Homo sapiens: one gene and its partners. The protein of the gene in region 1 interacts with the protein of each later gene in a pairwise test. Each region holds a gene or a part of one and is shown on either strand. Other genes may lie near its edges.

Region 1 (4,381 bases):
CGCCTTCTACCCCAGCCTCCCGCCTTCTACCCCAGCCTCCCGCCTTCTACCCCAGCCTCCCGCCTTCTACCCCAGTGCCTCCCGCCTTCTACCCCAGCCTCCCGCCTTCTACCCCAGCCTCCCGCCTTCTACCCCAGCCTCCCGCCTTCTACCCCAGCCTCCCGCCTTCTACCCCAGCCTCCCGCCTTCTACCCCAGCCTCCCGCCTTCTACCCCAGCCTCCCGCCTTCTACCCCAGCCTCCCGCCTTCTACCCCAGCCTCCCGCCTTCTACCCCAGCCTCCCGCCTTCTACCCCAGCCTCCCGCCTTTTACCCCAGCCTCCCGCCTTCTACCCCAGTGCCTCCCGCCTTCTACCCCAGCCTCCCGCCTTCTACCCCAGCCTCCCACCTTCTACCCCAGTGCCTCTCGCAACCGCAGTTCCCCATCTCAACTCTCGGGGTTGGAGGAGTGATGCTGCCTCCCAGGTAGTCTTGTGACTTTCAGAAAGTCCTTAAACCTCTCTGCCTTATTTTCCATACCTGAAAAGCCGGGATAACCTCAAGCCTACCTCACAGACAATAGCCTGGTGAGGATTAAATGAGTAAGTACAGCATAGAGCATCTAGAATAATACTTGATAGTATGAGCTCAAGGGATAATTACTGACAATACTATTTTTCTTCTCATTTTTCTTTTCTTTTCTTTTTTTTTTTGAGACAGAGTCTTGCTCTGTCGCCCAGGCTGGAGTGCAGTGGCGCCATCTCGGCTCGCTGCAAGCTCCGCCTCCTGGGTTCACGCCATTCTCCTGCCTCAGCCTCCCAAGTAGCTGGGATTACAGGTGCCTGCCACCACGCCCAGCTAATTTTTTTTTTGTATTTTTAGAAGAGATGGGGTTTCACCATGTTAGCCAGGATGGTCTCGATCTCCTGACCTCATGATCTGCCTGCCTCGGCCTCCCAAAGTGTTGGGATTACCGGCGTGAGCCACCACGCCCGGCCTTCTTCTCATTTTTCTAAAGAAATAGCTAGCAGGCATGATGTTATAGTCCCAGCACATACGCCTATGATCCCAGCACTTTGGGAGGCCAGGGCAGGAGGATCACTTGAGGCCATGAGTTTGAGACCAGCCTGACTAACATAGCAAGACCCCGTCTCTATAAAAAATTAATTAAAGAAAACAACCAAGGCCGGGTGCAGTGGCTCAAGCCTGTAATCCCAATACGTTGGGAGGCTGAGGTGGGCCGATCACCTGAGGTTGGGAGTTCAAGACCAGCATGACCAATATGGAGAAACCCCGTCTCTACTAAAAATACAAAATTAGCTGGGCATGGTGGTGCATGCCTGTAATCCCAGCTACTCGGGAGGCTGAGGCAGGAGAATCGCTTGAACCCGGGAGGCAGAGGTTGCAGTGAGCCAAGATCGCACCATTGCACTCCAGCCTGGGCAACAAGAGCGAAACTCTGTCTCAAAAAAAAAAAAAAGTGGGGGGGCGGTTTAAGAAAACAACCAGGGGCTGGGTGTGGTGGCTCATGCCTGTAATCCCAGCACTTTGGGAAACTGAAGTGGGCAGATCACCTGAAGTCAGGAGTTCGAGACCAGCCTGGCCAAAATGGCAAAACCCTGTCTCTACTGAAAATATAAAAATCAGCTGGGTGTGGTGGCAGGCCCCTATAATCCCAGCTACTTGGGAGGCTGAGGCAGGAGAATCACTTGAACCCGGGAGGCAGAGGTTCAGTGAGCCAAGATAGCACCACTGCATTCCAGCCTGGGTGACAGAGCAAAACTCCATCTCAAAAACAACAACAACAATAACAAAAAACAACAACCAAGCATGGTGGTACATGCATGTAGTCCTAGTATTCATGAGGCTAAGGTGGGAGGATCGCTTGAGCCCAGGAGATCAAGGCTGTGGTGAGCCGTGATTGCGCCACTGCACTCCAGCCTGGGTGACAGAGCAAGACACTATCTCAAAAAAAGTAAGGCCAGGCATGGTGGCTCACACCTGTAATCTCAGCACTTTGGGAGGCCGAGGCAGGATGATCACTTAAGGTCAGGAATTTGAGACCAGCCTGGCCAACATGGTGAAACCCTGTCTCTAGTAAAAGTACAAAAATTAGCTGGGCGTGGTGGCGGGCACCTGTAATCCCAGCTACTCGGGAGGCTGAGACAGGAAGAATTGCTTGAACCCGGGAGGCAGAGGTTGCAGTGAGCCGAGATTGCACCACTGCACCCCAGCCTGGGCAACAGAGCGAGACTTCATCTCTGAATGAATGAATGAATGAATGAAAATAATTTTAAAAAATAGAAATAAAGGAATAACCTACAGATGACCAAGAGACAGACAAAAAGGCACCTGAAAGCATAAGCAGTCGACCAATCATGGTCTGTTATTCTTTGGTAACACGGAACTCTCAAAACCAGAAAACAAGTCAGCAGACACATCTCAGAATGACAGGGGTCCTTGGTCTAAGACCCTAACTCACGGGTCAACCTTCTAACCCAGCACTTCTCAACTGAGGACAGCTGGCAATGCCTGGAGAGATCTTGGTGGACACACCTGGGGCAGGAGTGCTACTGGCATCAGTGGGCAGAGGCCAGGGATGCTACTCACTATCCCACAGTGCACTGCACGGCCCCCACAAAGACCCATCAATAGTGCTGGGGTTCGCCATGTGCCCATCTGTGAAGCAATCACTGAGAATCTGAAGAAACTCTAGACTCTGAGCCCTGCCATTACCAAGATGTGTTTTTCCAAAGCCACATCTGGTGACGTGTTTGCACAGGGCCATCCACACTCTCTACCCCTTAGTTGCGGGCCTCCATTTCCAAAATGGCCAGCCACACTGAGAGCTATAATCAGGACCTTCCTCCAAAATTGTCCACAAGGAAAGAGTTGACCAGGAGTCCCAGATTCTAAAATGGAGGCCCAGCTAAGTGACCTGGGACAAGTCACTTGGAGCCTCAGTTTCCCTGCCTGACAATGGGGTCACGGCATCCACTGGGCCCCTTCACATACCAGGCAGGAGGGGACTTCCCAGACCTGGAGACCATGAGTGTCAGGAAATGAACACGATCCAGGCCTTGGGAACTGAACTAAGCTATGAGCTCAAGCACATCTCCACCAGGGATGGCAGCCTAGTGGCCACTACACCAGCAACCCCAGTGGGGAGGGCACCCCACACCCACAAAAGGACGCTGCCTGCTTACTTGTCCGGCAGGGCACCTTCCTATAACAGCACCCAACTTTCACCCGGGAAACTACTTATCTTCTTCTCCCATCACCCATGTGGCCATCCCTCCACCGCCCAGGGCCACAGACTTAGCACACGGCATGGCGCTGCCCAAGCAGCTTCTCAGTGATTGGTTCACAAATGGGCATTCAACCAATCCCAGCCAATGAGGACTGAACCCAGAATGTCGGCTGAAGTACTGGGAACGAGAAACTCTCGGCCAGGCACAGTGGCTCATGCCTGTAATCACAGCTACTCAGGAGGCTGAGGCAGGAGAATCGCTTGAACCCAGGAGACAGAGGTTGCAGTGAGCCGAAATCATGCCATGGCACTCCAGCCTGGGCAACAGAGTGAAAGACTCCATTTCAAGAAAAAAAAAAAAAAAAAAAGAGAGACACTCTCCTTCAGCCAGGGTGGCACAGCCGGCAGGAAGCAAGGCTGGAGAATATAAGCCTGGCACTGCTGGTGAAGGGGACAGTCACCCTGAGAGTGACACCAATCCAGAGGAAGGCAGAATTTAGAGGGAAAAATACATGCCCCAAAACACCCTTTGACTCCTGGATCCAGTGATGCCTGAAGCAACTCCCAGTCCTGTCTTTTTCCACTGAGATTTCCATTCTCTGCTTCAGCCTGTTTTGAGTTGGACTTCTGTCCCTCAGAACCAGGGCAGCCCCCGGGCTACAGCTGCACCTACCTCTGGAGTGTAAGCTTCAAGTCCTTGAGGTGCTTCTTCTGCTTACTGATGGAACTGCTACACAGCGTCTGCAGCGCAGCCAGCTCCTCCAGCTTCTGCTTGTAGATCCTGTGCGTCTCCTGAAGAACAGGGGACCCGGGGGAGGGTGTGTGGGAGAATATGAACAGCTCATTTTCTTTTCTTTTTTTTTTTGAGAGAGTCTCGCTCTGTCACCCAGGCTGGAGTGCAGTGGCATGATCTTGGCTCACTGCAACCTCCGCCTCCTGGGTTCAAGCGATTCTCCTGCCTCAGCCTCCCAAGTAGCTGGGACTACAGGTGCCCACAACTACGCCCAGCTAATTTTTTTTTTTTTGGTATTTTTAGTAGAGATGGGGTTTCACCATATTGGCCAGGCTGGTCTCGAACTCCTGGCCTTGTGACCTGCCCGCTTCGGCCTGCCAAAGTGCTGGGATTACAGGCGTGACTCACCACACCCAGCCA
Region 2 (4,381 bases), on another chromosome or scaffold:
TATAGTCCTAGCATTCTGGGAGACCAAGGTGGGTGGATCACCTGAGGTCGGGAGCTCAAGACCAGCCTGGCCAACATAGTGGTATCCTGTCTCTGCTAAAAATAGAAAAATTAGCCGGGCATGGTGGTGCACACCTGTAGTCCCAGCTACCCAGGAGGCTGAGGCAGAATCGCTTGAACCTGTGAGGCAGAGGTGCAGTGAGCCGAGATCAGGCCACTATACTCCAGCCTGGGTGACAGAGCGAGATTCTGTCTCAAGAAAAAAAAAAAACAAAACACTGCATAGTTAATTTTGGAATAGTACATTAACTCCTTTCTGAGATGTTTCCTTGAGTTCTAAGAAATGTGGCAGATCATCTTTCTGGAAAAGGTCCCTGTTTGTTTTTTTATTTTTCTAAAGTCAGTTTCTGTCTTTGCTCACATCAATAAAAATGCACAGAAAATAATTTTCAAGCTTGGTGACAACTCTCAACTATTTGGAAGTTATTAAAAAATTAGGCCATTTCTTATTTTAGCCAAGTATTATGTTAGTATCCTCCAGATTTTATTTTTTTAATTAGTTAGAAGAATGATAATCATATATATAGTTATATATATAAACAATGTATTTTTTTATATGTGTCATCTACGGACTTAAGGTGGAGTTTGGGGAAAGAAGAAAGCTGGCCTCTCAATACCTGTGTGCCAGGTATATATAATTTAATTCGATACAACCTTGTGAGATAGGTTTAGGTTTGATATAGTTTTATAAATGAGGAAACTAAAGTTTAAGGAAATTGAATGACTTGTTCAGGGTCATATAACTAGTAAGTGGTGGAACCAGGCTTAGAACAGGGGTCTTAATTCCAACCAATGCCAATATTCCTTCCATTCAGCCCCTGTTTTAAAAAGCATTTGCTTGTCAACATAGCCGCATTATTGAGGATGCTGCTGCTTGGGTGCATTTCATTAAGTGTAGCCTGAGGACAACATGGAGAAAGCCAAAGATACTAGAGTCTAGTTTCCTTTCTGATTCCTGTTGTTAACAGCCTCCTACCTACGTTATTTTTCTTATCTGAAATAGGTCTAATTCTTTCCTGACTTGAGAGGTTTAATTAATGTTTACACGGTGTTTTGAGATCTTCAGTTGAAAGTGGTTATAGGGAGTAACTTTAAAATTCTGTTAGTTGCCAAATAGATGCCTGAGTTCTCCCTTGGGATGTGCCTAGTGGCTTTGCATCTCTTTTTTTTTGAGACAGCGTCTCGCTCTGTCACCCAAGCTGGAGTGCAGCAGTGGTGCAATCACGGCTCACTGCAGCCTCAATCTCCTGGGCTCAGGCGATCCTCCTGCCTCAGCATCTCAAGTAGCTGGGAACACGGGTGCATGCCACCAAGCCCAGCTAATTATTATTATTAATATTATTATTATTATTTGTAGAGATAGGGTCTCCCTGTGTTGCCCAGGCTGGTCTCGAACTCCTGGGCTCAAGCTGTTTTCCCGCCTTGGCCTCCCAAAGTGCTGGGATTATTGCTGCCTCTTTTTAATGCCAGGAAAAAAAATAGCTTCTGTGTTCTTACTGGATGTCATGGTTCCCTTGTTTTGTTTTGAACAGTGTTGTTTTGTTTTGTTTTAGAGACAGAGTCTCACTCTGTGCCCAGGCTGGAGTGCAGTGGCATGATCATGGCTTACTACAACCTTGAACTCCTTGACTAAAGCAGTACTCCCACCTCAGCCTCCTGAGTAACTGGGATTATAGGCACGAACCACTGCACACTGCTCCTTTGTTTTATTTTTTTAAACAAATCGTTCTATTCTTCTGGGGCTGGTAGAGGTCATTGATAAACACTAGAAGAGAAGTCCAAGTCCCAGTTACCTCCTATTCCCATACCTGACCATCTTTACTGCCCACAGATAAAGTTCTTGCCAGCCAAATTGATCAGGTCTCCCCTCTGCCTTGTTTGTATGTGCATTTGGTAGGGTGAGGGGGGCATGTGAGCAATCTTACAGGTTCTGATCATTAGTTTTACTATAATTACTCATAATAACAAGAACACCATACATTCAGAGATTCATGATTTGTTTACAGAATATTTGTAGGATAGAGCAAAGAGTTTTGGATTTTTCTTCTCTTACACTCAAATATGGTTTTATTTTATTCATAAATAAGGGAACCAATTTCAGTGGGAAAACATTCACATTATAATTTTTTTTTTTTTGAGACGGAGTCTCGCTCTGTCACCCAGGCTGGAGTGCAGTGGCACCATCTCTGCTCAGTGCAAGCTCTGCCTGCCGGGTTCACGCCATTCTCCTGCCTCAGCCTCCTGAGTAGCTGGGACCACAGGCGCCCACCACCACGCCTGGTTAATTTTTTTTTTTTTTTTTTTTGTATTTTTAGTAGAGACGGGGTTTCACCGTGTTAGCTAGGATGGTCTCGATCTCCTGACCTCGTGATCTGCCCACCTCGGCCTCCCAAAGTGCTGGGATTACAGGCGTGAGCCACTGTGCCCGGCCTCACATTATTATTTAATATACTAAGAACAATATGGCCTAGTATAATCTTAAAACAAGCTGTCAAATGAGATAAAATTAGTTCAAAATACAAATAACTGATTTTTTATAGTTCTTTATAGTCTTCAGACTATAATCTCATTCAGACATAATTTCATTTTAGTCTCATCCAGGTGGATATTGGCGTGCATTTTATAAAGGAGAAACCAGTTCAGAGAAGTTTAAACATGGGGCCTAGTGTTTCATTGCTAATAATTGGTACAATTGATCTTTTACGCTTTTGAGTCTCTGCCCAAGTATGTCTTTTCAGAAACCCCGAAGTCAGGTAACTGTAATGTTTTCCTCTCAAGTATCCTGTTGCTAATCTTAAAACCCTTTCAGAATCTCTAGGAGACTGACGGGTGAGCAAAGTAGGCAACAGAAAATTTCCTGGTGTACAGGGGCAGATCTTCTGTACAGATGAATAAGAAGGGATAAGGCTGTCTTGACCTAAATTCTTTGTGCAGGTCCACCACTCCAGCCTTTCATTGCTGCCTCTGTCCTCTGCAGAATCCTTCCTCCCACCTGATCCCAGGAAACAGTATCAGCTATTGGCCTTCCCAGACAACTAGACTGGACCATCCCATAAACAGGAAGCTTTTTTCATCCCTAGCACATTTATGAGGGAAGATCAAGCAAGCTCTTTGAGCAAGACAAATTTCAGTCAGTGAAGGAGGATTTTTGCTTTCTGAAGCCTCCCTGAACCTCTTCTCTTGATTTGGCTCCATACCTCCTGTTCCACAACTTTTCCCTGCATTCCCCAACTCCACACCACCCCCTCCTCTTGTGCACGTACACCAACCTCCATCCCAATACATCTGTCTCAGATTTGCCAAAGTACTTGTACTAAAGGAGAACATCTGTATCACTCCCCTGCCTAAGACTATTCATTGACTACCTAACCTATAAGATGAGTTCTTATTATGTCTTTGAGAACTTATTTGATCTACCCTTATCATTTAAGCTCCTTTACAGTTTCCAACCATCTTTTTTTTTTTTTTAGATGGAGTCTCGCTCTGTTGCCCAGGCAGGCTGGAGTGCAGTGGTGCAATCTCGGCTCACTGCAAGCTCCACCTCCCGGGTTCATGCTATTCTCCTGCCTCAGCCTCCTGAGTAGCTGGGACTACAGGCACCTGCAACCATGCCTGGCTAATTTTTTGTATTTTTAGCAGAGACGGGGTTTTACCGTGTTAGCCAGGATGGTCTCGATCTCCTGACCTCGTGATCCACCCATCTCAGCCTCCCAAAGTGCTGGGATTACAGGCGTGAGCCACCACGCCCGGCCATCTCCAACCATCTTTTGATTTTATTTTCTATTTTTCACTCACATCACTATTTCCTAAGGTATGTTATAGGCATTACTTGAAAGAAAAATGTTTTGTGAGGAAATAAGCTTGGAAAATACTGAGTTAAACAAAATAAAACAAGTTTATGAGTTTCTTAAATCTTTAAACATGCTAATATGCTAATATGTAGTATAAATCTTCAATATAATGTAATTTCCCCAATTTAGATCACCAGGAAACAGGTTTTTGTTTTTTCTGTAGCATCTTTAAGGCTTAACTCAAACTTTCCCTAAACTCCTTTAATAGTTACCATGCTGGCCTGCCTTTGGTTAGTGTCCTTATTTAACCATAAACCTTATGCTCTGAATAGATTGAGAGCTCATGTCTCTAGACTAGGATATCTATATTCCAACCATTTCTACAACTCTGTGTACAAAGTCTTTCAATTAGGCTCTAGAAGAGTGTGGTACATAGATGAATTTTGATGAAAAAGATAAGAAATATGAGCAGCATAGTTCTCAGAGGAAGAATAGAGATGAAAGAGATAAGCAAGAATAGTATAGACAGGT
Region 3 (4,846 bases), on another chromosome or scaffold:
GCCAATCTGGGTCATGATACAGAAATCTTCATCTACTTTCAAGTTGCAAAGATATTCTCCTACTTTTTTTTCTAAAAGCTTTATAATTTTGGCTTTTATGTTTACGTGTATGATGCATGACAAATTAATTTTTGTGTATAGTGTTAAGTAGGGGTCAAAGTTCAATGTTTTTCAGTTGTTTAGCACCATTTGTTGAAAAGACTTTCCGTTCCTGGTCTGATTATTTTGGCGCTTTTGTTGAAAATCAAATAACTATAAACCCCATTGATCGATTTGTTGATACTAATGCCACGCAGAGTTACATTCCAGTCCTCCAGAGCCAGTCTACAAATCACGCAGAAAAGCTGGTTGCTCTGTTTATAGTCACATGCAGCTAGCTAGTCTCCCCCCACCAAGTAAAGTGTAAATTCCTGCAGAAGAAAACCCATCTCTTCCATTTCAGTACATTCCTCACAATGCTATGCTCATACTAGGGGTCCAAACAATTACTGAATAAAACAAAGGTCAGAGTCAAGTTACAAATGATATTGTAGAAACTGTTGAAGCATAACTATGGCAAAGAAGCATTTTAATATAATTGAGAAAATGGCGGGAGAAACAGACTATTGTTTTATTTCCTTTCCAGATAGTCTATTTATGTTTAGACCTCTTTCAGTACTAATGTTACCAGTGGTGCGTGCGCACACACACACACACACATTGAACACAGAAAGAAAATAAAAATGAATGTGCATTATTAAATAGAGTGCATTGCTAAATAGTTTTTTATTTATAATTCATATAGTCTCCCCACTTCCTACAATGATGAGGATGGGTTTAGGAGGCTTTCATTTGCTAACATTGATTTTAATTATTATATATACTAAACTGTTTGTAGCTCTCTCTGCGTTTATCTTGTGATGAATTATTTTTAATGCCTACTACATATTGCATTCTAGGTGGTGAAATTCTTGAAAACTCAAACAATGGACTGAAAGTCATCCCTCTTTATCATAGGGAAGCCAAATGCTCCATTGTCCTGACACTATTTCTTACATTGAGTGACTACATAAATATATAATATTCTCACACACATATGCAAAAAGCTGAGTAGCTGACAACTCAGTCTGCTGATTGACTGTATGATTTGGCCATTTTGAGCTTTGATCTGTCCAGATATAAAATTAAGGAAAACTAGGACATTAGTTAATCAAATAGATGCCTTATCTGCAATCGGATCTGCTGCTTGAACATATTAGGTGATATTTTGCATGCTCACAACTGTAGTCTACATTTCTGTTTTCATTAGCCTACTTGATCTGAGAATGTTTGATGCTGATTTTTGTCTTCTATCCTTCATTACACAGTACTTATTTTGCTTTTAAGCTTTTTGTTCTTTTGCATGCCATAGGTAAAATCAGCCAATATTCAAGGAATGCTGCTTCTTTTGCCCAAGTCTTAGCACCATCATTTTTGCTAGTTGCATTGACTGTTTTTTAAAAACCAACTTTAAGTTACTGCAGAACCAAGCATAATGTATTCTAGGTAGTCTATAAGCCATGATTTCTTTCAGAAAAATACAATAGACAAGGTTTCCACTAAACGTAGTCTTTGTACTTTCTTTGTTTCCTCCAGGTCATTAACCTTTTCACCTATAATCATCTTAGCGATAGGATTTAGGCAACTATTATGTAATTGATCATTAGCAAAAGAGTCCTGGTGGCAAAAAAGAAATACTTTTCTTTTGAAACATATGATAAACATTTAACCTCTAGATTGATGTTTCATTTCTTAACTGATTATTAAAAGAATCTTAATTCTACCTTAAACATTTAAAAATTACACAGAGATTACATTTATTTCAGAATCAGTCTTCAAGTGGTGAAAAGTTGTTGGTGATATTCACATTCTATAATACCCAATTAAATGTTGCTTATATTTTATATTTTATTTTTGTTATATTTTATATAGCCAAGAAAATGCCTTTATTTTTTGGAGGAAGGTGGCTGAAGTATTTGGGGGTGAAGTACATGACATCTGTAATTTACTTTAAAAGCTATTATCTACCATCTATCTTTTTAATCTTTAAGCAAATGTAGCAAACTGTAAGCTGTTGATTTTATGTCATAGGTATATGTGGGTATTTGTCCTACTATTCTACTTTTCTGTATGTTTAGAATTTCCATATTAAACAGTCCACAAATCCATTCATAGTCTTTGATAAGCCAAGTCTTATGACATAATTGTCATGTTATGCTTCCTGGGTTTTTTTTTTTTTTCTCACATGCAAGATCAAAGAAGCTGCCCTCTATGTTATTTTAGGCCCTTTTCTAGGTATAAGGTCTGAATTCTTACAATTTGAAGACTTTCTACGTGCTAAGAGGGTGAAGTTTAGAAAGAATGTAAAGATAGTTAAACCTACCACTTTTCATCTAAATAATTAAATTGAGGTCAATCAAAACATGCCTAGACCAGAAAGTGTTAAGCTGCTTTAAGAACAACATATAGATTCATTTATTATTGTTCATTTCCATTCATACATGTAGAACATAGAACATAGTAGCTGCTGATGTTAGGGAACCGTTTACTTTAGAAGAACAACCTTTCCTTGGGTTAGAGGTAAACGGCAAAAGGAAAGGCATCTTAAAAAGCAAAGAGAAATAAACTGGAGAACTGAAGAAGGTATGGCCAGAATGAATTTCCTTTGCTTTTTAAGGGAAATGAAATAGCATGTACTCACTTCTCCTCAATCATTTGCTTTTGATACTCCTCATACTCCTCTCTAGTCATCCCTTGAGCTGCTGCAGGATCAGATGCACCTCCTTCTTCTTTATTTTCTTCAGACCCACCACCAAATCCTAAATTCTTTACCTGGTTACTTATCATACTTTTCATAAGGAAAGCCATTTTCTCTGCCCCAGAAAAATAAAACCAAAATTCAGACAAAAGCTGAAAAAAAAAATCCAAACAAACCCAAGAGAAAACCTCCAAATATTCTCAATGACAGCAATACATTTAAGAGCAAAGGACTTTGCACAACCTCATCTATTCAAGGGCATACTGATAGAGAAGAGTGGTTTGTCGGCCGTAAGCTGGATTAAAGTGGTGAACTCCTTAGTATATAGAGGCAGATGGTTCAGATTACCGAAGCATACAATCAGAGGCAACTGCCTACCTTCTGAATTAATACACTCAGCTAATTTCACAGGAAAAAGAAATCCCCACATCATCTACCCCTTTCTAAATTTTTAATTATAAGCACAGCAGGGCTTCATCAAGAGTCCTGTTTCAATTAAATTAATCAGAGCTGACTGATTATATAGCTGTTGTGGAATTTCCAAATTCCAGCCCTTGAGCAAAACATCCTGTTGAAAAACTGAGTCCAATGAGACTCAAAACCCAGAATGCTTCATTAAGCAAAAATAATCCTTTCGATCCATCATTTTATCTCATTGGACTTTAAGTACTATGCAAGGATTTGCTTTTTAGTTTGCTTGAATTCGGTTTGCTTCAATAGTTACTGTGTCCCGCACATAAATACACAACTGACAAATGCAAAGACCCAGACAGCAGGTCCTTGGTTTACATCTGGAAGATTATCTTAGCCTTCTCCTGCATGGAAATATTACTTGTCTATATGGAAATGATGTGCTTGACACTTCAAGGCTCTGATCCAGAAGGTAAGACCATTATGTGAGTCAAATCATCAATATGTAAGGGGTCACCTTTTTTCTCTTGCATAAAGAGTGCACCTCCTGGGTGCTCTATTTAAGCTCACTGGTGTACTTGGATGAAACTGACAATGTTTTGTATCCCACCAGATTCTCTATGGCTGTGGTTTTCTTCAGGTCAAGGGAAGAGTTGAGTATGGCTAAGACTTCAATCTACACTAGTATCTTTCTAATTAAAGCCTGCCAAAGAGGGTGGGGTGGGAAGGAAGAGATGTAATCCATTGTTATTTTATCTGAAGGCATGAGTCCTCTCAGAAACCAGGTGATTATCTCTCTGATCATATAGAATTACATAATCTGGATTCTTGCCTAAAATGCTTGCTTTATATATTTTATCGTCTGCTTTCCCTTTTAGTAATCTATTTTAAAATGCTGCTTAAATGGTCTCAATATGAAAGGCTAAAAAAGATAATTTAGGGTGAAATATAAGCTGTACTCAGGGCTTCGAGGAGAATGCCCATCAATATTGAGTTCCACTTTCTCTTTTAGATGGGTTGCTTGGAACTTAACACGTTCATACCATTATCTCTAAATTACCATTTATAATAAACTACATTGCAGTCCACTGAGGAATGTTACTAATTAATGTTGTCTCATAGAACTTTTCAAACCATAAAATAAAAGCCACAGCCTTGTGTTTCTGTCTGTTCGGTCTACATTTTATTATAAGTAATTATTTAGATTTATTATAAAATCTATTCTAAAAATTCCATTGTATGAGGAATTAGGAAATATTAATGGTGAGGGTGTCAATTCTAAACTCCAGCACCCATGTGTAAAGGAGTTTCTCCCTGTCCCGTCCTTTTCTGAATGTATGTTTGTGTGGAGGGGGTTAGGAAGAGGGGGTGTCATGCATTATGGGGACTCTTCGGTGGTAGCTTCAGCAGGGTCGCCGTGGAAGGTCTCCTGAGAGTGCTTTATGAAATCAAATATCTTATTATTTCCTCAACAGGTAATTCCATTGAGAATGAGGTCACGACTTAAAAAACTTTTTACTCCTTGATTTATTACAATGACCTTTGCCCTTGGACATCCAGGAACTACTAGCTGGTGTGTAGGATCTTTTTTTTTGGAGACAGCCTCACTGTGTTGCCCAGGCTGTAGTGCAGTGGCAGGATCTCAGCTCTCTGCAACCT
Region 4 (4,168 bases), on another chromosome or scaffold:
AAAACAGGGTGGTAGGTTGGGTCATGCTTACAATGGTCTCAAGTTCAAATAAGCTACTGTGACAATACACCACTTCACAGGTCACACGCATTTCCAGGGGCTTTTCCTTTCCCTCAGTAGGTGCTGGCAGAGGGTGTGCTCAGTCGCTTTCCAATATAGATGCTGAAAGGAAGCAGAAGCATCATGTTTCACCTGTTTCAACAGTTCTATACCAGCTTGTCCACAGGTTGAACTCTACTTAAAACTCTTCAGTCTTTGTAAAAGGCTCTAAAGGTTTGTGGGTACCGCTCCCCAAACACCGTGAAATCATCACTGACTTTCTTAAAACCAGTCACCAGCCCGGCCAAACTGGTTTTATATGAGTTTGTTTACTCATTAAATATCGGGGCTCGACAGCAAAGGGGTAGTGATTAGACAAAGTAAAGCCAGAGAGAACAGATCCCTCCACAGAGTAAATAAAGCAGCCCAACTCCTTCAAGATGTTCCTCTTTGGTGGACAGAAGGTTCTACTGACATTTCAGACACAAAAATATAGTAATATGTGAAATTATTCTGGTGCTCTATGTAGGACAAAAGAAAAAAAAAACCTTAAAAGCTGCCAGTGCTTTAAAGACAGCTCTTACTAATAACTCCTAAGGATTAGGGGCCTTATAATACTTTTTCATGCCAAGAAAGTATTTGGCCTCTTCAACAGCAAAAGCAGAAGGGAAGTTAAGGAAAGTATGTAACTAGCTTCACCTCCAGTGCAATTAAAGCAACGAACTTTTTAAACACTCTTTTTACATTCATCTATAGCAATAGTTATACTTACAGCCAAGACAAACAATCTGAAGATGACTGAAAGAGAGACGGCAAGGTATAGACACCAATCGCTTAAGGGCAATGAACTGCTGTATAGGCAGCAATGTATTAAACTCCTACACCTGCCCCACATCAACCCCCACGCAACAGTCACACAGTCCCCTTCTGCACAAACCCCTTCTAGGTTGCTGTTTGTTGATTACTGTCCTTGCCCTCACAAAAGCAGATCAAGCACCCAAGAGAGACAAGACGGGTGTGTGGAAAGCTGTATGCAAGTTTCTGAGGTCGTGACTAAGAATCTCTCTCCAATATGCTGAGCTCCTTAAAGGGAAGAAAAAGGATGACCCCATCTTCTGCATATCTTATACTGAAAATGACCCACTGGGCATGCTTAGAGCACAACATACGTCTTGAAAAAAATTAACAGCTACTGTTTAACTCCTAAAATCTTTCAGAAGTGTAATTCCTCAATTGTTTAAATCAAGGAAAAAAAGCAATTTATTTAAAAGATGTGGCTAAGAAACTAATGAATTACACGTAAATATGAGGTTGATTTTAGCAAAATAAATGAAAATACTACAAAGTTAAAAAAGGAAAAAATTAGCACCAATCAACCTACCAGTTTCATTAAAAAAAACTATTCAATGTAATCATGTATTTTCCCATATGAAAAAAAGGTATTTGCACTGACCACAAAATGTACATGCTAAAGATTAGTTTAGTTCATAAATTACTCAAGATTAAATATTACACAACAAAACCCAAAAAGAAAAATCAATCACAGAGGAGTCCGCTTACATTTGATCATTTAGGGGATTATTATGAACATCTTCTTTTTTTTTTTTTTTTTTCCGAGATGGAGTCTCACTCTATCCCCCAGGCTGGAGTGCAGTGGCATGATCTCGGCTCACTGCAATTTCCGCCTCCCATGTTCAAGCGATTCTCCTGCCTCAGCCTCCCAAGTAGCTGGGACCACAGGCATGTACCACCATGGCCAGCTAATTTTTGTATTTTTAGTAGAGACCGGGTTTCACCATGTTGGCCAGGCTGGTCTTGAACTCCTGGCCTCAGGTCATCCACCCATCTTGGCCTCCCAAAGTGCTGGGATTACTGGCATGAGCCACCACACCAGGCCAAACATCTTATTTTCAAATAAGAAAACACACTCTACTATTATTAAAAATGCTTATTTGTAGAACAATTGTGCACCCACTTTTTTAAGTTCACCTTATTTGCACTAAAACATTGAAAGTAAAGCAATAAAAACTGCTTTCACATACATTTCTTCAATCTGAAAATAAGAGGATAAAATGAATGGAAAAAACTTCAGGAGTTGACCGGTACTTACCCTAGCCCCAAAGCCAAAACATGAGAAAGGAAGAGAGATGGAATGAACACCTTCAGAAATTCTGCGGAGAAAATACCCCCTTTCTTCATGGCTCCACTTTTCCTCATGCTTAAAGACACAGAACGTTTAGGGTGTCTGAAGTGGAACTCCCTGAGAAAGAAATTCAGAGGCAGATGTCATTTGCTGAAAATATCGTGGGGATTACCAGGCCCATTGCCTGTAAGCGTGCGCAGATCAACTGTGTCCACTGACAAGAAACATGTGAGAACTCACTTGGGTGGAATGTTTTCGGGTCTACTGGACCAGTCTGATACCCAGTCCGCACTTTTCTTCAAAGCCTCGACTTCCTTCTCTCCTTCTACAACTTCTTCTTCTGACTGTAAAGAAGAATTCAAACTTTAAGAAAAAAAGGAAGACCAATTCCTCCTAATACAAAGAAAAATCTAGACAGAAAAGATACCAAACTCATAAGGTTGTGTCTCAGAAATTTTAGATAACAAACATGTTGCTTTTCTAAAAAATGCTGAAAAATAATGTAAGATCAGAGTATGTAATATCTTCAGAACAACCTGAGTGAGCTTCACTGTTGGGATATCTAAGCACAGCACAGGAACTGCATAAGACTGTACTTTGGGATGTAATGCTAAGGGAAGTATGAAAAACCTCGATAAGAGTTAAATCTGGGCAATACTTACATGGAGGTCCATTATATTATTCTCTCTTGTATGCACTTAAAATTTTCGTAATTAGGCCGGGTGCAGTGGCTCATGCCTATAATCCCAGCACTTTGGGAGGCTGAGGCAGGCGGATCACTTGAGGTCAGAAGCTGGAGACCAGCCTGGCCAACATGGTAAAACCCCGTCTTTACTAAAAAAAAACACAAAACTTACACGCTGGGTGCGGTGGCTCACGCCTGTAATCCCAGCACTTTGGGAGGCCGAGGTGAGCGGATCACAAGGTCAGGAGATCGAGACCATCCTGGCTAACACAGTGAAACCCTGTGTCTACTAAAAATACAAAAAAATTAGCTGGGCGTGATGGCGGGCACCTGTAGTCCCAGCTACTCGGGAGGCTGAGGCAGGAGAATGGCGTGAACCCAGGAGGCGGAGCTTGCAGTGAGCAGAGATCGCGCCACTACACTCCTGCCTGGGGGAAAGAGCGAGACTCCGCCTCAAAAAACAAAACAAAACAAAACAAAAAAAAATTAGCCGGGCATGGTGGCGGGCACCTGTAATCCCAGCTACTTGAGAGGCTGAGGCAGAAGAATCGCTTGAGCCTGGGAGGTGGAGGTTGCTTGAGCCTGGGAGGTGGAGCCGAGATCCAGCCACTACACTCCAGCCTGGGTGATAGAGTGAGATTCCATCTCAACAAAAAAAAGAAAAAAAAAAATTTCATAATTAAAAAAATAAAAGGAAATAAAAGGATATGCTAAAAATAAAATGATGAGAAGTAAAACAAAAATAAGTGAGAGATGTGATGAGGAAATAAATAATAGTATTTATTGAGCACTTAAAGGGGCAAATATTATTCCAAGCATGTTACATGCATTTTTTTTTTTTTTCTGGAGACAGGGTCTCCTGTGTCACCCAGGCCAGAGTGCAATCACAGCTTACTGCAGCCTCGAACTCCTGGGCTCAATTAATTCTCCCACCTCAACCTCCCAAGTAGCTGGGACTACAGGTGTGTGCCACCACGCCCAGCTAATTTTTGTATTTCTTTAAAGAGACAGTGTTTCACTATGTTGCCCAGCCTGGTCTTGAACTCCCGGGCTCAAGGGATCTTCCCTGCCTCAGCCTCCCAAAGTGCTGGGATTACAGGTGTGAGACACTGCACCCAGCCACATGCATTAACTTTCACCTTGCAACAAATAACCCTATAAAAATAATTATTAAAATCCCATTTTACAGATGAGGAGACTGAGACATAGATTAAATAACTTGCCTAAGGTTCCACAACCAGTACATAGCAGGGCCAGTATTCAAACCCAGGAATACTGTATAGAGAGGCCCTACTGTTAAG
Region 5 (4,381 bases), on another chromosome or scaffold:
TAAGACCCTATCTCTTGAAAAAATAAAAACAACATGATGGTCACCGCAGATTCTTATATTAGGACTTTGAAGATCCCTTCTGATGCTACTTTTTCATGAATTAATAATAAAAACAGAACCCCCAGAAAAAAAAAGAAATAATACACACTACATTTAAAAACTAGTCCACTGTTAATGGTCAGCCTGTTCATCTCCTGGCAGAGCGTTCTTTCCTAAAAGCAGAGGAAGGTTTTATTTAGAGCTTAATAAGACACTGCCATAAATTAATTTTGAGTCCAAAAACTGTGTTTGATTGACTTAGAAGGCAATGTATTTATTTTAAAACATGGAGTTTAAAAACTAGTGGCACTAGAATTAACTTAAAGTTGTAAACATCAAGGTAAAATAAATGTAATTGGGTTTTCAACTCTCCAGCAAGCTGGGTGAGTCTTATCTGACAGTCTTCAAGAGGACCTATTGCTTCTGCAGATGGTGAGCCACGTTAATGGAGAGAGGACTCACATCTAGGGAGAACTGATCAGAAACATCTTCAGCATATGATGAGTCTGAAGTATTGATTATAGATCTGATTAAACAAAAAGGAAATGTGGTTTGCGCAAAAGTTTGTGAGTGGGCAGAGGGGTAGAGCGTATGCAGCAAGAACTCCGTGTAGTATGGAACCTCAAGGCACATTCATATTTAATGAGAGCTGGCAAAGATAAATTCATTCATTTCATGTTGACAAACTCAGAAGTGGACTAAGAAGTCTCAAGGAATGCACAGTTACAATTATAGAGGCAGGGTGAAGATAGAATCTGGCAACTGAAGAGTTGGGTTTGATGTACTATGTAATCTCTCTGGACTCAGTTTATTCATCGACATCATGCTGAAAGTTACATCTGTCTAGTAGGTTTATCATGAGAATTTTATGGATTAATTTACATGAATGTGCTTTGTACAAATGTCATTATTCATGTTATTCTATCTTTCGTTTATTTCCCAAATATACTGAGTGCCTTCTGGGTGCCAGGCATTATTCTAAGCACGAAGAATACACCAGAGAACAAAAGAAAAGAATCCCTGTTTTATGGAGCTTACATTCCAATGGAGGGAGAGGGAAAACAGCAACATTAAATAGTAAAAAGTGCTGTGAGAAAAAATAAAACAGGAGAGAGTGTGTGCACAGGGTCATTGGAGGATGGCCTTTCTGAGAAGGTATCATTGAGCAGGCGCTGAAGAAAAGAAATGAGGATACAAGCTATACACATATCTGTGTGAAGGCATGTCAAACACAGGAAATTGCAACTCAAGGGCTCAAGGGGCCCAAAGGAGTGTGTTTGTCATGCTCAACAGACAGCAAACAGTCCAATGTGGAAATTACAGCAAACAACGTGAGAATAGAAGGGGATGAAGTAGTAGGAGGGATGGGGAGGGCCAGATCACAGCAGGTCTTATTGGCCATGTTAGAACCTTGGCATTTGCTTAGAGTTTATGGCATTTGCATGGAGCAGCAGAAGGTTCTGAGAGGAAGAATGATGGGATCTAATTTGTACAAGATCATATGATCTGATGCTGTGTTGGGAATAAACTGATGAAGTGAAAGGGACAAGGGTGGAATCAAAACAGTTAAGAGGTCTGGTACAGGGATCGGATTGGAAGACGATTTTGTTTTGGTGAAGATGACAGTAGAGCTGGTGGAGTTTGAAAGAAATGAAATGCAAGAAAATGATTTGCTGGATTAACATCTTTGAAAAGGTGAGAGGTGATGTGCTCTAGTGAACAAGTAGATGGGATGGCAGAGATAGAAGCATAGTTAGTTCATTTATAGTTAATGGAGGGAAAGCAGTCAGGATGGCAAATGGGGTATGGCAGAAAGTGGGGTAGCCCCTCTCTTTTCTTGGTTGCCCCTAAGGCAACAATAATCCAAGGTATCATCATAGAGCAAGTCCCACTCCTTCCCTTCTGGTCAAAATCTAGTTTCAGGGCATGAGAACTCTGCTCGTATGATCCTGAAGAGTACATTGAAAAATGGCCACAAAGTTCCCCCACCTCTGTTTGCTTGCCTTTTGCAGTATGACTTGCTGCTCCTTGCTTCAAGAGGTAATGTCTGTTTCTCCATCCTTTGAGTCTTCAGCACACCACTGTCTTTCTTTCTTTCTCCTTTCTTTTTCTTTTCTTTCTTTTTTCTTTCTTTCTTTTTTTTCTTTCTTTCTCTTTCTTTCTTTCTTTTTTTCCTCTCTCTCTCTCTGTCTCTGTCTCTCTCTCTTTCTTTTTTTTTTAGATGGAGTTTCACTCTTGTCACCCAGGCTGGAGTACAATGGCATGATCTCAGCTTACTGCAACCTCCGCCTCCTGGGTTCAAGCGATTCTCCTGCCTCAGCCCCCTGAGTAGCTGGGATTACAGGCACCTGCCATCACGCCCAGCTAATTTTTGTATTTTTAGTAAAGACAGGGTTTCACTATGTTGGCCAGGCTAGTCTCAAACTTCTGACCTCAGGTGATCTACCCACCTTGACCTCCCAAAGTGCCGGGATTACAGACATGAGCCACAGCACCCAGTCCACCACTGCCCTTCTTTCTATGAAACCCTCTAGGTATTCAAAGAAGGCTGTAAATATGGCAGGAGCTCAAACTACATTGCTGACTAAAAGTAACAAACTCTTGGAATAATGTTGACCAAATCATTTGACCTTTGTTCTTCTCTTCAATTCCCATAATAATAATGAAGAAATTTATGAGAAGGAAAAACATGATTATTAATAATGATCATATTTCACTAGGGAGTAGTAGCATCCATCTATCATGAGGCAGATAATAAAGAATTATGAACCAGCTTCTCTGATACCCTCAAATCTTTCTCTTCTTTGGACAATGCCCAATTTTTCCTCCTGAGATTGCTCTAGAATGCTTTCCTTTGCACTGAGATAATGAAAAATTTGATTAGAATATAAACAATTTCCAAAAAGGGGTAATAAATGAGGTTATTTTTAGATGCTGACACCCTGACGTGACTTGTTCTGTCAATTTAGCTGGTCACTTAGGGCCTTGAATAGGATGCACGAAAGATCACCAGGGGAAGAGAGGAAAACACACAGGGCAACTAGAAGGGCAGGCCTGGAGAAGAAGGGCAGAGAAGGTACTAGGTGCTAGTGAGTGAGGCCCTAGGACAGGTGATGGTGTTGGGGAGAGATGGGACGGTAGCTCAGAAGAGAAATGGGAGGACAGGTGCCCTCCTGGCGATTGTGCATAGTAGCACATGTGTCCATGAGAGGTGCTAGAAGGAGCACTGGAAGACTGAAATCAGAAAACAAGGGTTCTCTAGCAAGTCCTTTCCCTTCCCCGAGCTCATTTTCTCATCTCTAAACTGGAAATAGCACTCTTTCCCCTGACTACCTCAGGGATAGACATGAGGACCAAAACAAGCAATGTATTGAAAATTACATTGTAAACTGTGATGCACAGGCAAATATAGGGTTTTATTTATTTATTTATTTTAAAGGCTGGGCATGGTGACTCATGCCTATAATCCTAGCATTATGGGAGGCTGAAGCAGGAGGATTACTTGAGCCCAGGAGTTAGAGACCAGCCTGGGCAATATGGCGAGACATCGTCTGTATTAATTTTTTTAATACAATTATTATTATTTTATTGTATTAATTATTTATTGTATTAATTATTTATTGTATTGTATTATTTTTTAAATCTCTTTAAAAAATAAAAATTATTACATGCTTTAACAAAGGAAATAAGGAAACTTTTTTTCATGCATGCAGAAAGTAAATGGAAAGACTCTTTCCCTTCATATTGTACATCATATTAAAAAATCAACTTTGGAAGGGGGAACACATCTAACCCAGCATTATTGTTCAATATTGGAATTGCATGCAAATCAAATGAAATTGTATCTGTGAAGGGCGGCTGTTTTTCTTTCTTTTTTTTTTGATGGAGTCTCGCCCTGTTGCCCACGCTGGAGTGCAGTGGCACAATCTTGGCTCACTGCAACCTCCACCTCCCAGGTTCAAGCAATCCTCCTGCCTCAGTCCCCCTAGTAGCTGGGATTATAGGCACGCACCACTATGCCCGACTAATTTTTGTATTTTTAGCAGAGATGGGGTTTCGCCGTGTTGGCCAGGCTGGTCTTGAACTCCTGACCTCAGGTGATCCACCCGCCTCGGCCTCCCAAATTGTTGGGATTACAGGCGTGAGCCACTGCGCCTGGCGAAGGGAAGCTGTTTTTCTTACAGTTAACAACCAAGTGTCCTGAACCACTTCTCTTTCCCTTCCACAGCTTTTCAGTTTGGTGAGACAACACTCAGTTTGCAAAGAAACTGAGAATGGGCAAAGATGGGCATACTGTGTACACTTCTTCCAAAGTTTTTTGGGGTCGGGGAGGGGATGGGCA
Region 6 (4,381 bases), on another chromosome or scaffold:
CAAAAAAAAAATGTTTTTGTAGAGACAGGGTTTCTCTATGTTGCCCAGGTTGGTCTCAAACTCCTGGCCTCCAGTGATCCTCCTGCCTCAGCCTCCCAAAGCACTGGGATCACAGGCATGCACCACCGTGCCCAGCCACAAACGACACTTTGAAGCCCCTAGGTGTCTTTCCAGCTCTTCAATTTTGCATTTCCATCTGCCTGGAACACCGACCCCCAGCTGTCCCCACGCAAACTCTTTTTCAGAGCCCCTCCATTCCTGGGGCCTCTGTGCCGCTCCCTTAGTGTGATCGTGTCCCTTAGTGAACTGTGTGAGCAGCATTAGTGTAATTCCAGCCTTCTGTTCAGTGCCTGACACTGGTGTCCAGTAAATATTTGATGAACACATGCATAGATAATGTCAAAGCTAAGCCTGAAAAACGCAGAGGCTCACCAGACAGATGAAGGGAACGTGAAGGCAGCTAGCAGAGACTGGACACGTCTCTTCAGGAAAATGAGCATGATCTAAACATGGCCAAAGCATGGCGCGTGCTGGGGAGAGGCAAGATTTTAGGCACCATGGTAGCACGAAGGAGTGGCAGAGGCTGGGAAGCCATCCCCAAGGGGAGTCACTTCCATTAGCTCTTGAAGGATAAAGGGTGTTTGTCAGATCTGGGAGGAAGGGAGAGGAAACAGCAGCATGGTCGTCTACGGAGTGTAAGGACCTCGGGGGTGTTCAGGACCTGAAGAGCTGGTCCAGAAAGAAGGGAACATGGAGGAGATGGCGGCCTGGAAGCTGAGCTGCAGAAGTGGCCCTTCTCTCCAGTGACCCTCAGCCTGGCTGGCTTGCCCACTCCCAAGACACTACTGGGCTTCACTTGTCTTCTCACCTCCCCAGGTTGGACCTGCCATCTGAGCCCAAACCCACATGTTCAGCTGCCTTCTTCAAACATCGCTTGGATGGCTTCACCAAGATTCATACTGAATGCATCCACACTGAACTCCAAATAGCCCCCAACCCACCTGCCCAGAAACCCAGGGGTTCCTCTCCACAGTCACCCCCATTCTGGCCCCACCACCTCCCCTTTCACCTCTGCACTGACAGGGCTCCTCCTGCCCTTCACTCCCCTCCCGTCCACTCTCCACGCTCTGCTCAGTGCCTCTGTTTAGGATTTTGGGTTTTTCCTAACAGTGGCAGGAAAAACCCAAAATCCTAAACGGAGCCAGAGGGAGGCCTCCATGCTGGCCAGCCTCCCTCTCCAGCTGCCTGCCCTCCTCTGCTCTATGGTCCCAACTTGGAACCTTCTGTTTTGTTTTGTTTTGTTTTGTTTGAGACGGAGTCTCACTCTGTCACCCAAGCTGGAATGCAGGGGCGCAATCTCAGCTCACTGCAACCTCCGCCTCCTGGGTTCAAGTAATTCTCCCTGCCTAAGCTTCCTGAGTAGCTGGGATTATAGGCGCCCGGCTAATTTTTGTAAAAACTCCAATCCTTCCAACACCAGGTTTCCTCCACCTGGAGCTAAACATTCTTTAGCTCACCATAAATAAGTAACTGCTTTCATCTCAAACAAACTAAGCCCCCCAAACTCTCCACAGGACCATACATTTTCTTTCAAATCCCTTATAAGTTTCTGGTGATTTTTTCGGTTGGTTGGTTGGTTTTGGTTTTTGTTTTTGAGACAGTCTCTCGCTCTGTTGTCCAGGCTGGAGTGCAGTGGCACAATCTCGGCTCACTGCAACCCCTGCCTCCCAGGTTCAAGTGATTTTCCTGCCTCAGCCTCCCAAGTAACTGGGACTACAGGCATGCACCACCATACCTGGCTAATTTTTTTTGTACTTTTAGCAGAGACAGGTTTTCACCATGCTGGTCAGACTCATCTCGAACTCCTGACCTCAAATGATCCTCCTGCCTCGGCCTCCCAAAGTGCTAGCATTACAGGCGTAAGCCACCTCGGCCTCCCTAAGTGCTGGGATCACAGGCGTGAGCCACCTCGGCCTCCCTAAGTGCTGGGATCACAGGCGTGAGCCACCTCGGCCCCCCAAAGTGCTGGGATCACAGGCGTGAGCCACCTCGGCTCCCCAAAGTGCTGGGATCACAGGCGTGAGCCACCTTGGCCCCCCAAACTGCTGGGATCACAGGCGTGAGCCACCTTGGCCCCCCAAAGTGCTGGGATCACAGGCGTTAGCCACCTCGCCTGGCCATCAGTTTCTGACTACACAAAGTCACACGCAGGGGTGGAGGCTGGATTCTGATCTGCCAGGAACCACTATCATTCAGAGTACATCTCTAACGCCTCTACTAACAAGGTTTTTGTGAGGACTCTGCATTCATATGTGTAAAGCACATAAAACAGGTGCTTAACACAAGTAAACACCAAATGCATATTTATTACACCCCCATGCGGTTACTCTCTTGGACCCGTCTTCCCATGACAGAGGAAGTCCTACCATAGTGGGGATTATCATTTGCTTTGCTTGGCACTATTTTTTCAAAGTTTAACATGGTTCTTGGCACACAATTCACAACTAACAACAATGAATAAATAAATGGATAAAAGAGAGTAGGATCATGACAGTACTAGAAGAACATTCTGGCCAGTGCAATGGCTCACACCTATAATCCCAGCACTCTGGGAGGCCAAGGCAGGTGGATCACTTGAGCTTGGGAGTTTGAGAACAGCCTGGGCAACACAGTGACACCCCATCTCTACCAAAAATACAAAAAATTAGCCAGGTGCGGTGGCACATGCCTGCAGTCCCAGCTACTTGGGAGATGGGAGGATCACTTGAGCCTGGGAGATCGAGGCTGCAGTGAGCCATGATTGCACCACTGCACTCTAGCCTGGGCAACAGGGCAAGAACCTATCTAAAAAAAAAAAACAAAAAAAAAAAAACAAAGGACAAAAAAAAGAAAAAGAACATCATGGTAGTGTGTGGAAAATGACAGAAGGAAAAAGATAATACTAGAAACCAGGAAATCAGGACTTCAAGCTGCAGAGGTTTGGAAGAGCAGACATAAGAAAGCAGGAAGGGAGCTGACCAAGCCAGGAAGGAGATTTACCAAGTGAACAGGTGTCCTCATGGACCCTGCTTGATGTGAAAACCTGAATCCACAGGAGCTCTGCCCAGCACAGTTCCCCGTATTTTCTCAGCCAACTATGCATGAGAGCAGAGAAGTTTGGTCATCAGATCACATGTGCATTTAACAAACACTTTAACGTCCACACCTATGTGCCAGGCACTCTACTAAGCAGACAAAAGAGGGCATAAGTATGGTCCCTGCCCTGGCAGAATTCACATTCTAGGGTGGAGACAGGCCACAAACAGGTAAATGAGTTGAAGAATGGCTTGTGGCCAGTCGCAGTGGCTCACACCTGCAATCCCAGCACTTTCAAAGGATGAGGTGGGCGGATCACGAGGTCAAGAGTTCAAGACCAGCCTGGCCAACATGGTGAAACCCCATCTCTACTAAAAATACAAAAATTAGCTGGGGCCAGGCACGGTGGCTCACACCTGTAATCCCAGCATTTTGGGAGGCCGAGGCGGGTGGATCACGAGGTCAGGAGACCAAGACCATCCTGGCTAACATGGTGAAACCCTGTCTCTACTGAAAAATACAAAAAAATTAGCCAGGCGTGGTGGCGGGCGCCTGTAATCCCAGCTACTGAGGAGGCTGAAGTAGGAGAATGGCGCGAACCCAGGAGATGGAGCTTGCAGTGAGCCGAGATTGTGCCACTGCACTCCAACTTGGGCCACAGGGCAAGACTCTGTCTCAAGAAAAAAAAAAAAATTAGCCAGGCGTGGTGGCAGGCGCCTGTAATCCCGGCTACTCAAGAGGCTGAGGCAGGATCGGACGCGGTGGCTCAGGCCTGTAATCCCAGCACTTTGGGAGGCCGAGGCGGGTGGATCATGAGGTCAGGAGATCGAGACCATCCTGGCTAACACGGTGAAACCCCGTCTCTACTAAAAAAATACAAAAAATTAGCCGGGCGTGGTGGCGGGTGCCAGTAGTCCCAGCTACTCGGGAGGCTGAGGCAGGAGAATGGTGTGAACCCAGGAGGTGGAGCTTGCAGTGAGCCGAGATTGCACCACTGCACTCCAGCCTGGGCGACAGAGTGAGACTCCGTCTCAAAAAAAAAAAAAAAAAAAAAAGAGGCTGAGGCAGGAGAACTGCTTGAACCCAGAAGGTGGAGGCTGCAGCAAGCTGAGATTGCACCACTGCACTCCAGCCTGGGTGACAGAGTGAGACTCCATCTCAAAAAAAAAACATATAAATAAATAAAATTTTTTTTGGCTGGGCGCGGTGGCTCATGCCTGTAATCCCAGCACTTTGGGACACCGACACGGGCGGATCACCAGGTCAGGAGATCGAGACCATCCTGGCTAACACGGTAAAACCCCGT
Region 7 (4,381 bases), on another chromosome or scaffold:
GAGGCAATGAGGAGCAGAGGGGAATTCTAATTTCCACTGCTACTAATCAACTGTGCGACCTTGCGGACGTCACTTAACTTTTCAGAGCTTCAATTTTTCCTTTGAATAGTGGGATGGCAAACAAGTTTCATTTTTTTTTAAGTTTTTATTATTATTAATTTTTTATTTAATTTAATTTTTTTGAGAAGAAGTCTTGCTCTGTCGCCTGGGCTGAAGTGCAGTGGCGCAATCTCAGCTCACTGCAACCTCCACCTCCAGGGTTCAAGCAATTCTCCTTCTCAGCCTCCCCAGTAGCTGGGATTACAGGCGCCTACCACCACACCAGGCTACTCTTTGTATTTTTAGTAAGGACGGGGTTTCACCATGGTGGCCAGGCTGGTCTTGAACTCCTCACCTCAGGTGATCCACCCACCTCAGCCTCCCAAAGTGCTGGGATTACAGACGTGAGCCACTGTGCTTGGCCTCAAGTTTTGTTTTTTAGAGCTAACTCTAAGCAGTTGAGGGTTGTTACCCAGAGTGCTATAGAAGGGTTCTGAGGCCAAGTCTAAGCTCAGAGGAAAACAGTGCTGTGGTTAATTACTAGCATGGGAATAGCAGGATGGAGTGCTAGCATCTGGGCTAAGTGTTTGCCACCTATGGAAGATAATCTCTGAGGATCCTTTGGGCTCTGACATTCTACGTAGTATATGTATGGTACATTCTACTATTCAATCTGGTTTGGAAATGAGGCTTTTGCCTAATAACATATTCTAGTTAAAAGCAATTCCTAATTTTCAAAATAAGGAGATGATAGGGCACATTTAATAACATCGTAAACATAATTTAATCTTCTAAACGTAACAGTTTTGAAAGAAAGCACTAGAGGGTTCTGTAGTACTACCAGGTTATCATCACAAAGCAACAATCATCATACCAGGAAAACCTAAACATTTTGGTTAATGCAAAATTCTGAAGTCGCATGTCAAATGAGCTACTATCCTATTTGATGCTGGCTAAGAAATTATAGTGACCAGTTTGTGGCTTAAAGGGCATCCTAAGAAAAGAACAGCGTTCTGTGGTCAGCCAGTGATGACCAGCTACTACTATTTTCTAACAACAAATTGGTTTGCTCCTTGTGTCTTGGGAGATTTGTCAAGTCCACAGCAACTCCTCCTATGAAAACTGCTCTTCTTCTTCAGCCCATTCACAGGCATAGGGCTGTGGAACCATATTATTATGCTATCTTTGCACTTTGACCAAAGTTGGACCAAAAAGACTGTCTCTTCTGTGAATGTGGAATTAGGGCTGGTCTGTGTTCTTTAGTGTTCACCTGGCAGACATCTAAACCTGGGAGCTAGACATTCTCCACCACAAGCTATCTACAGTGAGATGTGGCACAGGAAAGGGAATGACTAGTTCCCTGAACTGCCTTCTGGTTCCAATTTTGGTGAGACTTGCCCCTACTTCCTACCTTTGGGTTTGGTGAGATATCCCTGAAATTTTACACATTATCATCTTTAAAGATACTCTTTTCTAGGTTAGGTTAACAAATATTTCCTCAGTGCCTCCCAGAGGGGCCATGCCACCCATGCAGGGTTAAGACATAGGCAGATGATGATGAAAAGAAGGAAGAAAAAAGGCAGATGTCAAAGTAAGAGAATATAAACAAGAGGAAAAGAGAGAATGAGGAATAGGAAACAGTAAAAGGGAAAAAGAGCCTGAGAAAAGAAACAGAACAAAAAAGAAGCCAAAAATAAGTAAGAGATGGGTGGTATGGATGGAATGATGACCCACTTGCTCCGAAGTTGGAACTGTTAATTTGACCTTAATATGGAATCGGGAGAATAAGTATGGTACACACAGTCATAAAAGAATGAGGTAACTCTACATGTACTGATACGTCCATAGATATTAATATTAAATGAAAAAAGCAGAGCGCAGAACAACATGTGCAGTATAACCCTACTTTTGTAAAACAAACAAGCCAGTAATCCAAAAACCTGGTCAAATAAAATCCAAATACACTCAACTGTTAGGAGTGGTGACCTCTGGGGGAATATGATTTGAAGTTACGGGGAGGGTTTTCACTTCTAACTTTACCACTTCAAGATTATTTCAAGTTTTTACAGCAAGCATGTTTTACGTTTTTTTATAATTATTAATAAAAGAGAAAACTCAGTAAGAAAAACAAGTTTAAAAAAAAAGTTACCTTGGCGCGGGCCTCGCGGGACGCTTCTGCTTCTGCAGCCATAGCTCTCTGGAGCTGCACAGGTAGTTTCACATCCTTAATTTCCACACGCTCCACCTTTATTCCCCAGGCATCAGTGGCATCATCCAGAGTAGACTGTTAGGAAGAGAGAAGGCAAGCTAAATCTCCTCAGCCCAGCCCAGATGCTGACAGAGGCTGTATTCATTGGGATTTGGAGGAGATAAGGTGCTGGGGAGAGTTGTGGAGAGACAGTTACCCCACGGTGGAACGAATGGTGACGCAGGGGCTGGCTCACTGATCCTGATTCTGTTGCTAACAAGCTAATGCAGGGGTTAGCAGCTTCTTCTAAAAGGGCCATATAGTGATTGTTTATTTGTAGTCTCTGTCTCAACTATTTAACCCAGCTGTTGTAGTCAAAAGCAGCCATGGATAATATATAAATAAATGGCTGTGGCTATACTCCAGTCAAACTTTACTTACAAAAACTACAGCCTGTAGGCTACAGTTTGCCAACTCCTGAGCTAATGTGACTCTGTGTAAGTCATATTACTCCTTTGTGCTTCAACTTCCTCCCTTTAGAATGTCAGGAATGAAACCACACATCTATTTCATAGGTTGTTGTGCATATCAAATACAATCATAGATTTTACCCACGATGAAGTCTATACAAATAATAAGAATCCAGAGTTATAGCACTTTATCTTTTTTGAATAAGCTATGCTTAACTGAATATCTGTTACTCAAGAAAGACTGGAAAGCACAACAGTTATAATTCATGGGACTCACACACAGAATAAAGCTTTAGGAATACCTACACTATCTTGCAGAATAGCCTCTGTTCTAAACAAAAAGGTTATTACTGATTCTGGAAAAAAATACACACTGAAGAAAATTTTAAAAAAATGTACGCATGAGTGTTATGAACTCATGAACTGCTAATGTGAAAAATGTCCCCTCCTGCCAAATTTGAAAAATTTTACTATGAAGAAAAAAAAACGGTCACAGACCCCCACAACTTGAATTAATAAAAGGTTCTCAAACAACCATTGACTCTTTGCTTCATTTTTCAGCTTCTGGGGGGTAACAGCATTGACGTACTCCCCACCTGCATGTTGTGTGCAATTTCTTCTCTGTCAGAGAGGATCTGAGAAAGATTCTTGGTGCCCAGAACATTCCTCAGAGTAGTTTGTGCCAAAAGACGGGTTGCTGAGTCAGCGTTGGTGATATTTGCCACAGCCAGGGTTGCATTCTGAACGCGGTAATAGACCACACCATCCACGCTAATTGTCACTGAATCCTTTGTGAGGATCTACAAGATGAAGGAAGCAATTTTACATCTGTCAACGACTTTTTTTTAACATAACTGTAAGGAATGTTATTCTACAGAATATCTTATAACACTAGCTGATTTTCTTTAGTAAGGCATCAGAAAGTTAATTATATCTTTTAAAATTTAATAAAATAAATTATTCAAGTCCATTAATTCATTCAATCATACAAATAATATTGAGATATCACTCAACAGCAGGCACTGTACTAGGTACCAGGGATTAAGGTAGGAAAAAAACTTGGTTCCTCCTTTGAAGGAGGTTAGGGAATCAAAGGAAACTCTTAGGGGCAGCTGTGGGTGGCAGGGGTGATACCTGAATTGAATCTTGAAGAAAGGAATACAATTTTTCTGAGGGTGTTGGGTGGAGTGGAAGAATATTCAAGAGAGAGGCACTAGAGAGTCAAGGTTTGATAAACTACAAGTTCCACAATATTACTGGAACAAAAAGTGCATGGGGAATGTTTTTAAAGGGCAAGGTCAGCATCAAAACATATTTTACAGCATGCTACATAAAAATGCTAAACATGACATATTTTTGTTTTAAGCTAAGAAGTTATCTGAGTGAGAGGCTCCAGGAAAATAGTTACATCCATCACTTAAAACTCACTGGGACTCAGTTTTCTCATTTGTAAAGTAGAGATTAATTATAGTACCTACTTTGCATTCTTGCTAGAATTAATGCGTTAAATACATTCAAGTGCTCAGAAAAGTTCCTGGCACGTAAGAGCTGTCTTATTATTTCATCTTGGATAATGGTGGTAACTTTACTGAATAAAACACTGACTTGATTAACTGTAATAAGTTAATTTAGATAATAATAAACAAGCCAGCTGGGCATGATGGCATACACCTGTAGTTTCAGC

The links.
Region 2: the proteins of TMEM120B (region 1) and RNF19B interact in binary tests that used the Homo sapiens proteins (3 or more experiments, as listed by UniProt).
Region 3: the proteins of TMEM120B (region 1) and CPLX4 interact in binary tests that used the Homo sapiens proteins (3 or more experiments, as listed by UniProt).
Region 4: the proteins of TMEM120B (region 1) and BNIP3L interact in binary tests that used the Homo sapiens proteins (3 or more experiments, as listed by UniProt).
Region 5: the proteins of TMEM120B (region 1) and SCN3B interact in binary tests that used the Homo sapiens proteins (3 or more experiments, as listed by UniProt).
Region 6: the proteins of TMEM120B (region 1) and NCAPH2 interact in binary tests that used the Homo sapiens proteins (3 or more experiments, as listed by UniProt).
Region 7: the proteins of TMEM120B (region 1) and STOM interact in binary tests that used the Homo sapiens proteins (3 or more experiments, as listed by UniProt).

Annotation. Positions count from the first base shown.
Region 1 is NC_000012.12:121,743,268-121,747,648, reverse strand, and holds part of TMEM120B (transmembrane protein 120B), read right to left. Parts: intron 4,021-4,381; coding exon 3,902-4,020; intron 1-3,901. UniProt on the Homo sapiens protein: Necessary for efficient adipogenesis. Does not show ion channel activity.
Region 2 is NC_000001.11:32,957,865-32,962,245, reverse strand, and holds part of RNF19B (E3 ubiquitin-protein ligase RNF19B), read left to right. Parts: intron 1-4,381.
Region 3 is NC_000018.10:59,315,577-59,320,422, forward strand, and holds the start of CPLX4 (complexin-4), read right to left. Parts: upstream 3,074-4,846; 5' UTR 2,887-3,073; coding exon 2,720-2,886; intron 1-2,719.
Region 4 is NC_000008.11:26,406,358-26,410,525, reverse strand, and holds part of BNIP3L (BCL2/adenovirus E1B 19 kDa protein-interacting protein 3-like), read right to left. Parts: intron 2,527-4,168; coding exon 2,423-2,526; intron 2,300-2,422; coding exon 2,150-2,299; intron 163-2,149; coding exon 114-162; 3' UTR 1-113.
Region 5 is NC_000011.10:123,647,464-123,651,844, forward strand, and holds part of SCN3B (sodium channel regulatory subunit beta-3 precursor), read right to left. Parts: intron 1-4,381. UniProt on the Homo sapiens protein: Regulatory subunit of multiple voltage-gated sodium (Nav) channels directly mediating the depolarization of excitable membranes.
Region 6 is NC_000022.11:50,511,035-50,515,415, reverse strand, and holds part of NCAPH2 (condensin-2 complex subunit H2), read right to left. Parts: intron 1-4,381. UniProt on the Homo sapiens protein: Regulatory subunit of the condensin-2 complex, a complex that seems to provide chromosomes with an additional level of organization and rigidity and in establishing mitotic chromosome architecture.
Region 7 is NC_000009.12:121,345,827-121,350,207, forward strand, and holds part of STOM (stomatin), read right to left. Parts: intron 3,498-4,381; coding exon 3,294-3,497; intron 2,324-3,293; coding exon 2,189-2,323; intron 1-2,188. UniProt on the Homo sapiens protein: Regulates ion channel activity and transmembrane ion transport. Regulates ASIC2 and ASIC3 channel activity.